2 linked regions of the Homo sapiens genome follow. The protein of the gene in region 1 interacts with the protein of each later gene in a pairwise test. Each region holds a gene or a part of one and is shown in the gene's direction. Other genes may lie near its edges.

Region 1 (5,392 bases):
CTCTGGGGATACAGTGGAGAACCAGCAAGACACATTAACGCCCTCAGAGAAGATGAAGTAGGGGTGAGAGGGGGCCTTGAGTTTGCTTTAAAAGTGTACTTTTTAAGGTATTGCATTAAATCATTTGAAAAGATTCCTTGAATATAGAAATGATTATCCAAAAAGTCTCCACGTTCTCAAGGAAGTATAACCAATCGACATTCATAGGATACCCATATACACACTAAATTTAGTAAGTAGCAGTCCTTCAGGGTTGGGATTAAGTAAAAGAAATATTGTCCTAATGGTGAGGACTGTTAAGTGTTAGAATGGAACCAAAGAATAGGAAAAATGACATCCTGTGCTGAAAGCTTTAAAGAGGCTGAATTCACATCGGTCTTTGTAGGTTTAGATGTGTTTCTGTCTGAAAAAGGAATAGATAATCCCTTATATTTTTATAATCCTATGAAGTTCTTGGGTGTTTGTTTGTTTGTTTTTTGAGACAGAGTCTCATTCTGTTGCCCAGGCTGGAGTGCAATGGTGCGGTCTTGGTTTACTGCAACCTCCGCCTCCCGAGTTCAAGCGATTCTCCTGCCTCAGCCTCCCAAGTAGCTGGGATTACAGGTGCCTACCACCACGCCCGGCTAATTTCTGTATCTTTAGTAGAGACTGGGCTTCATTATGTTGGCCAGGCTTGTCTCGAACTCCTGACCTCAGGTGATCCACCTGCCTTGGCCTCCCAAAGTGCTGAAATTACAGCACCGAGTGGCTCACTGAGCGCAGTGAGCCACTGCGCCTGGCCTGAAGTTTTATATATTAAAATTATAAAAGCCTTTGGTGAAGTGAGGCTCCTTTTTATTTTCTGGAATTAAGAAATGTACATGAGGCCAGGCACTGTAGTTCATGCCTGTAATCCCAGCACTTTGGGATGCTGAGGCGGGTGGTGCACTTGAGCCCAGGAGTTCAAGACCAGCCTGGGCAACATGATGGAATCCCATCTCTGCTAAAAATAGAAAAAATAGCAGCGTGTGGTGGTGCATGCCTGCAGCCCCAGCTACTCAGGAGACTGAGGTGGGAGGATCACCTGGTCCCAGGAGGTCAAGGCTGCAGTGAGCTGTGATCGCAACACTACATTCCAGCCTGGGTGACAGAGAAAGAAAAGAAAAGAAATATACGTGATACCCTGCTGATATAGTGGAATCCATCGTCTGAGGAAGTATTCTATAAACTTTTTCAATCTGCCACACATTTCCAGATATCTAAATTTTCCCTGACACAGACTGGAGGGATGGATAGGGGCAGGATTTTATCTTCAGAACAAAAATTAACTGAATGTTGGTTAAGGTGGCCATATAATTTATTGCTTAAACCAGGACACTTAAGACAACCCTTTGTAAAAAAACTTTTGTTTTCTTTTTTTTTTTTTCCCCGAGACGGAGTCTTGCTCTGTCACCCAGGCTGGAGTGCAGTGGCATGATCTCAGCTCACTGCAACCTCTGCCTCCCAGGTTCAAGCGATTCTCCTGCCTCAGCCTCCCAAATAGCTGAGATTACAGGTATGCACCACAATGCCTGGCTAATTTTTTTGTATTTTTAGTAGAGACAGGGTTTCACCATGTTGGTCAGGCTGGTCTTGAACTCCTGACCTCAAGTGATCTGCCCACCTCGGCCTCCCAAAGTGTTGGGATTACAGGCGTGAGCCACCGCGCCAGGCCATAAAAAACTTAATTGGAGTTTGTTCTACATGCAGAATGATGAATCTTCTGTCTATGACACCTGTGAAACCAGCACCTAGATTGAGAAACAGAATGTTAGTAGGAGTCTTCAAAATCCCTTGTGTGTTCCATTGTAATTGCTGTATCCTTCCCCACGAAGGCAACTACTATCCTGACTTTTCCAATGCAGAGATGAGTTTTGCTGGTTTCTATACTTCATATAAATTGAATTACACTATATACTTGTTAACGTCTGGCTTCTTGAGATTGACATTATAGGTTGATCCATATTACTGGGTCTAGTTCTAGTTGTAGATCGTTTCTTTCCATGGTGTAAATTTATTTATTCATTCTATTGATGATGGGCATTTGGGGGAGTTTCCAGGTTTTGGTTACTATAAATAGTACTGCTAATAATATTCTAGTATCTTTTGATGATCATATAAATATTTCTTTTTGGCATATACCCGAGAGTGAAATTGCTGGACAATAAGGTATGCATAACTTTACCTTAAGTAGATACTGCCAGTTTTCCAAAGTTTTGTTCTCATTAAAGCACTCATCAGCAGAACATTAGAGTTCTGACTGCTGTATATTCATTTTGATACTTGGTGTTTTCCAGGTTTAGCCATTCAGATATGTGGTAGAGGTATTCTCATTCGGCTTAAATTTGTATTTCTCTATTGCATGGTTTAAATTTGCATGTTTTTCTGTTCCTTTCTTTTTCTTATCAAACTAAGACTTTTTTTTTTTTTTTTGTCTTCCTCTGTTGCCCAGGCTGGAGTGCAGTGGCGCAATCTCGGCTCACTGCAACCTCTGCCTCCCGGGTTCAAGCGATTCTCGTGCCTCAGCCTCCAGAATAGCTGGGATTACATGTGCATGCCACCCCATGCCTGGCTAATTTTTGTATTTTTAGTAGAGATGGGGTTTCACCATGTTGGCCAGGCTGGTCTTGAACTGCTGACCTCAAGTGATACCCCGCCTCAGCCTCTCAAAGTGCTGGGATTACAGGCATGAGCCACTGGGCCCGGCCAAACTGAGACATTTTTAAGAAGAAAGGAGACAACAGGCATAAATCAGATTGTTAAGATTAGGAATTTGGTTTTGGATAAGTTTGAGATGTCTGGGAAGCAAACGCCGTACGGAAATACCAAGAAGACATTGGATTATGCAGATCTGAAGCTTAGAAGACAGTTCTGGGCTGGAGATATAAATTTTTTGGAGTCCCTGCCATGGAGACAGCATTTCAGTGAAAGAGTGAATGAGATCACCCACAAGAGGGAGTGCAGAGGGAGAAAAAGCCCTAGGACCGAGCCTGAGAGGCACCAAGGTTCATTCACAAGTTGGGAGTGAAGAAAATGCCAGCAAAGGAACTCCTCCACCGTCCCCTAGAGGGAGCCACTGAGAGGCAGGGGTAACATGGGGAAGAGGGGAGAAGCAAAAGCCAAGGGAAAAAGGTTTCAAAAAGGGAGTGTCCAGTGTGTCAAACTGTTCATTTTGTGTTGTTTAAAAAACAAAACAAAACACATTCTGTGTCCTTTCGTCTTTCCCTAGCCATCATCGTCTACAGACTGCCGTGGACCTGGAAATGCAGCAAGCTCCTGATGAAATCCATCCATGCAGGGTTAAATGCAGTTGCTGCCATTCTTGCAATTATCTCTGTGGTGGCCGTGTTTGAGAACCACAATGTTAACAATATAGCCAATATGTACAGTCTGCACAGCTGGGTTGGACTGATAGCTGTCATATGCTATTTGTTACAGGTCAGTATTTCAGTGTATTTACAAGCAAGTTATAAAAACAATTCAGAGACTGTAAATGTTTTCTTTTCTTTTTTTTTTTTTTTTTTTTTGAGACAGAGTCTCGCTTAGCCACCCAGGCTGGAGTGCAGTGCTGCGATCTTGGCTCACTGCAACCACTGTCTCCAGGGTTCAAGTGATTCTCCTGTTTCAGCCTCCCAAGTAGCTGGGATTACAGGTACCCACCATCGTGCCAGGCTAATTTTTGTATTTTAGTAGAGATGGGGTTTCACCATGTTGGCCAGGCTAGTCTTGAACTCCTGACCTCAGGTGATCCGCCTGCCTCAGCCTCCCAAAGTGCTAGGATTACAGGTGTGAGCCACCGCGCCCAGTGACTGTAAATGTTTTCTAAACATTCTTTACATTTGTTTCTATTATAACTATTTTCCCCTCAGAGAGCACCAGAATTGCAGAATTCACAGAACAAAATAATAAGAAATAAAGATTTCTTATACTGGATATGACTTTTAATCTGGATTCTCTAAAAACCAACTTATACTCTGCTCTATATCTTAATATGTAAAATTAAGAAATATCAGGCTGGGCATGCTGGCTCATGCCTATAATTCCAGCATTTTCGAAGGCCGAGGTGGGAGGATCATTTGAGCTCCGAAGTTCAAGACCAGACTGGGCAACATAGGGAGACTGTCTCTACAAATAAAGGAAAGACAGAGAGAGAGATCGAGAGAGAGAGAAATCAAGAGAGAGACTGATCTAACAATTAGCAATAAAGAGAATACCTATTTAAAAATCTGTGGGTCCTGGCTGGGCATAGTGCACTGCTCACTCCTGTGATCCCAGCACTTTGAAAAGCTGAGACCAGTGGATCGCTTAAGCCCAGACGTTTGAGATCAGCTTGGGCAACATGGCGGAACCTCATCTCTAAAACAAAAACACAAAAATTAGCTGGGCAGGGTGGTGCACACCTGTTGTCCTGGCTACTTGGGATGATGAGGTGCACAGCTCCCTTGAGACCAGGAGGCAGAGGTTACAGTAAGCTGAGATTATACCATTGCACTCCAGCCTGGGCAACAGAGCCAGACCCTGATCTCAAAAAAATAAATAAATAAAAATCTTTGGGGTTTAATTAAAATGGTTCCCAGAGGAATATAGGCTTAAATGCTTTTATTATATTTTTTGGAAAGAAAACTTAAAATACATAAGCTATTTACTTAGGTAACTATAAGGGAACAGCAAAATATACCAGGAAAAGTAAATCAATAAAGGTAAAAAAAAATCCATAAATAATTCATTTTCTATTGTGGTAACCAATTACCACAGACTTAATGGCCTGAAACAACATAAATTTATGACCTCACAGTACCTGTACATCAGAAGTCCAGATTGGCTTGTCTGGTTTCTCTGCTCTGGGTCTAACAAGGCCAGTATCAAGGTGTCAGCCTTCCAGGGCTCTGATTGGGAGACTAGGGTAGAATCAGCTTAAAGCAAATTCAGCTTGATGGCAGAGTCCAGGTCCTTGTATGTGCAGGACTGAGGTCCCTGTTCCCTTGCTGGCCATCAGCTGGGGCTGCCCTGAACCTTGGAGTCCTCTCTTCCTTGTACCCGGCTCCCTTCATCTCCCTACCAGCAATGGACATCCAGTCCATCTCGCTGGCTTGGAAACTCTCTGACTTCTCCTTCTCCTTCCTCCTCATCTCTTCTCCTCAACCAGATAAAGTTCTTACCTACCCCAACCCCTAGAGGTTACCATTCTCCCGGTGTTTATTCTCATTCTCTGCTTTTTAAAATACTTTAATCACATACTGTGAATCAATATATTGATTAAACAAGATGTTTAATTAAATAATATTGATTAATTAAACAAGATGTTTAAATATTGATTAATTAAATCATATATTGTTTAATTTTGCTTTTTAAATGAAACTTTTTTTAAAAAATG
Region 2 (4,445 bases), on another chromosome or scaffold:
GGCTCAAGAGATCCTCCTGCCTTGGCCTTCCAGGTAACCGGGACTATAGGCTTGCCACTATGCCCGGCCAGAACGTCATTTTAAACAGATTTTCTTGAGCAGCTACTTAATACTAGTTAGCCATTCCTAAACCTGTAGGTCTTGACTAATGTGAGGGCATATTTGAGACAACCCAAACTCACATCTTAAGTTATTAATTTTAATGTGTCAGCTAACAACTGGGAAGCTACTTCTTTGGCAATATGAGAAACAAGAGTTTTAAAGACCCAAGCAAGAATACATCTCCAGTGTTTTCACCCTGAGGGATATGAGTTAGTTTGCTGAGCAGCCATTTGGCACAGCTTCCATGAGTTAGGTTGTGAGCCGCCTTCGGCTCAGCAGTCAGTATGGAGCAGAAGCCACAGGAGGTGAGCCGCTGGCCTGCTGCCACCGAGGAGGACACTGAGACATGAGTGCTTTCCAAGTTGTGCAGAATTTTGGCATGTGAGGAGGATGGTTGTGACATATGGATTTAATTTTCTTGAAGTTATTGTTTCTTTATACTCTAATTGGTTAAAAGATAAGCAGGTGAGGTTATCAAAAGGCAGTAGATTCCGACAGCTTTTGAAAATGGGAAGAGTGAAATCCCTGTGCTGTCTTCATAGAGCAGTGTGTGGAGTAGGAAGTACCTCGTTACTGTGCTCACCTAGGGCAAAGGTCGGATTAAACAGCTTTCTCATCTGCCATGCAGCGGGGAGGACCAGTTGGAGAGGTTGCTTTTGGCTCTCACACCTTAGTGTAAAAATCACTTTGTGAAAAATGCAGCTGTCACCTCCTTCCTCCAAGATTCTGATTCTGCCTCAGTTAGGATCCAGGAATCTGCATTTTAACATGCACACCAGGAATTCTGATGCCCAAGGTTGAGCAAAACTGACTTAGGGCGTACAGACAGAGGATGCCTTAGTGTGGGGTCTTAGTTGGGTCTCATTGCTTGGGGCAGTTCCAGGAGGAATAGGCTAAAAGGGACTTGAACTGAATTCCCCACCTTGTATTTTTTTTGAGGAGAAGTGAGGTTAGATCAATCAGGTGATGGGGGCTAGTAATGGGGAGATCTCTAAGGAGAGGGGAACCAACCCTTTTGGCTAGGAGATGATGGGTAAGAGTCCATGCTTTAGGGTCATTCTTCCTCAACTGAAGGGTGCATCTTGCTATACTGCTAATATTTCAGTTTATTCATTGCTGTCTCCCCTCTAAGCTGTTGAGCTATCAGGTAAAAACAGATGCATGAGTGGATGGGGCCTTTATTGTAGAAGATGCCACACTTTGCACTGTCCAGTGTAGAAGCCACTGGCCAATTCATTTAAATTGACAATAAAATCGAGTTCCTCAGTTGCATTAGCTGCATTTAAATGCTCAGTAGACACATGTGGCCAGTGGCTACCTTATGAGACAGTGCAAATACGGAACAATTCCACCATCACAGACACTTCCATGACATAGCACTGCTCTAGAGAGTAGAGAGGAATTCAGTGGAAGGCTGTCCAGGGAGTAGGGAGTCCAGTTGAGAATGGAGAGCAGAGGGCTCCCCTTACAGGGTTGGAAATGCAGATGTGTCATGCAGGAGATCCAAGGTCCAAGTCTTTGCCCTTGCCCTTCCCTTCCTCCACCCAAACTTCTACCTCTTCCAGGCTTACACCACTGCTAATCCAGCATTAACCACAAACTATATTTCAGTTTTCCTGTAGGACTTAATTCTTTTTCAGAAAATGTGCAAAAACATTTTCTGCATAACAAAGCAACTTCATATTTCAACTCCGTAATCACAGAACTGTTACTCTAGGCATATTTTGCAGTGAATGCATTTGTGTAATATTTTCTCCATTTCTGTTTATAAGATTGTTATTTTGCAGGTCAAGTTGGGGGTGAGAAAGCATAGAGCTGTTATAGTTTGTTTATTAGTAAGCAGTTTCCCTTCATTTCCTTTTCTTCACATACTTTGGCTTTTAAACTAACCAAAACAGAAGGGTCTTAAGAGTTTGGGAGTCAGAAGGGGGATGGGAGTTCCTACTATATTTTACTGCCATAAGTAAAAAATAATTAACAAAAATCAACTTTTTTTAATAGGTGGGGAAGAAAACATGACAGAAACAGATGCCTTCTATAAAAGGTAAAGCTGTGCTCTTTTCTAATAAAGGTCTCTTCCTTTGATGGTCATGATCAGCCTACAGAAATCAAAGCAAGAATGGGTCCTGGGAGCTAGGAAGTAAAACTGAGTAGGCCAAGTTTTAGCCTTTGGGGAGCTCATTTGTAGATAGGCAGGTTGTGCTGCCCCTGGTTGTCGAGGGACCCGGAGTGATGTTCAGAATGCATATTAATTGGCATGGCATGAGCCTAGAGCTAGAACTTGGTTCTGAGCCTCGTGGTTATTCCTGGTTGCTGGATCCTGGGGGCCAGGGGAAAGACATCAAGGCAGAGGGTTAGGGATGTGTCAGGATGGCACATGGCTGCTCTTTACCAATTGGCAGAGAGATATTTCAGGACTTTCCTTATTAGCATGGCCTTTCCTGGAGCACACCCATGGAACATCAGCCTGGCAAGGAGGAAGCTCAGATCTCTATCTACATGTTGACCTAGAACTTGGAGGGGCTCATTATTTAATATGACTTGAAGTGATTGTTTTTCAACTTTTCATTAACAGAGAAATGTTTGATCCGGCAGAAAAGTACAAAATGGACCACAGGAGGAGAGGAATTGCTTTAATCTTCAATCATGAGAGGTTCTTTTGGCACTTAACACTGCCAGAAAGGCGGGGCACCTGCGCAGATAGAGACAATCTTACCCGCAGGTAGTAGTTTTATCTACCTATCAAGATGAGGCAGTTAAGTGATAAAATTACTTTTGGCCAGGTGTGGTGGTTCATGCTGGTAATCCCAGCACTTTGGGAAGCCAAGGTGGGAGGATCACTTAAGGCAAGGAGTTTGAGACAAGTCTGGGCAACAGAGTGAGACCTGGTCTCTACAAAAAATAAAAATCAATTAGCTGGGCATGGTGGCGGTAGTCCCAGCTACTCTGGAGGCTGAAGGGGGAGGATTGCTTGATCCCAGGAGTTCAAGGCTGCACGGAGCTGTGATCATGCCACTGCACTCCAGGCTGGGCAACAGAGTGAGACCTTGTCTCTAAAATAAAAAATAAAATAATTTTTTTCCATGTTTCCAAATGAAAAGTTAAAAAAAATTAAAAATTAAAAAAATTCCAGACTTCTAGATGTAGGGAAAAGTTACTTATCATAACTTGTCAACACTAATGAGGTAACAACAGATCAAGAGTGTTGGAGCATGGGCCTTGCTTTGATGCAGCCTCCCTTAAGAACTTGCCTGAGTTGGCCGGGCATGGTGGCTCACTCCTGTAATCCCGGCACTTTGGGAGGCTGAGGCGGGTGGATCATAAGGTCAGGAGATTGAGACCATCCTGGCTAACATGGTGAAACCCTGTCTCTCCTAAAAAATACAAAAAATTAGCCGGGCGTGGTGGTGGGAGCCTGTAGTCCCAGCTACTCGGGAGGCTGAGGCAGGAGAATGGCATGAAGCCAGGAGGCGGAGCTTGCAGTGAGCCAAGATCAAGCCACTGCACTCCAGCCTGGGCGACAGAGTGAGCCTCTGTCTCAAAAAAAAAAAAAAAAAAAAAACTTGCCTGAGTTATTTTCCTTACTCTGTTCTATTAAATGTTGACAGGCTTTTGCATTTGTACTAACATTTGCATAGTAGACAACAACACTCTAAATTGAATCGGCTGTCATTATGATTAAATCCTTTCCGACCATGGTGAATGAAGGGAAAACCACCATTGTTATATTTCATTTCTTTTCTCCTAAAGAAAGCAAATTTATGTGTCGTTAAAATGTGTATAGATTCTTCCAAAGTAAGGGTATTTGACAACTTTGAAAAGTTTATAGGCTAACATTTCATTTAATATACCACTAGGTTTTCAGATCTAGGATTTGAAGTGAAATGCTTTAATGATCTTAAAGCAGAAGAACTACTGCTCAAAATTCATGAGGGTAGGTAGTTTTGCTATCATATAGTTCATCTTCCTCTAATGAAACCGAGTCCTTTATCCTATCTGTAAAGACAGGTACAAGTAATTACTTGTGTGACAAAAAAAGTATTAATTTAGCACAGGTTACAGGTTTTGGGTATGCTGCTGTGTTTCCGTTACCCAGCACATTTAGAGACCCTTGCAAATAATTATGCCTCTAAAGTTTATATTTAGCATACCACTAGTTACAGTCTCTTGTAGAAATGAATGAAATGACCCCTTCAATTGGCAGTAAAAGCCTAAAATGCAAGTACTACAGGTGCTGGGCAGTCAACAGGCTCATTTTCTCATTGACTCCTTTCATGCCTCATTTTCTCACTGGTTTCCAAATAGTGTTGGTTTACATACATTACCTCCTTTAATTCTCACAG

Evidence for each region.
Region 2: the proteins of CYBRD1 (region 1) and CASP6 interact in binary tests that used the Homo sapiens proteins (3 or more experiments, as listed by UniProt).

What each region holds. Positions count from the first base shown.
Region 1 is NC_000002.12:171,538,338-171,543,729, forward strand, and holds part of CYBRD1 (plasma membrane ascorbate-dependent reductase CYBRD1), read left to right. Parts: intron 1-3,247; coding exon 3,248-3,456; intron 3,457-5,392. UniProt on the Homo sapiens protein: Plasma membrane reductase that uses cytoplasmic ascorbate as an electron donor to reduce extracellular Fe(3+) into Fe(2+).
Region 2 is NC_000004.12:109,696,001-109,700,445, reverse strand, and holds part of CASP6 (caspase-6 isoform alpha precursor), read left to right. Parts: intron 1-2,103; coding exon 2,104-2,146; intron 2,147-2,677; coding exon 2,678-2,824; intron 2,825-3,959; coding exon 3,960-4,036; intron 4,037-4,445.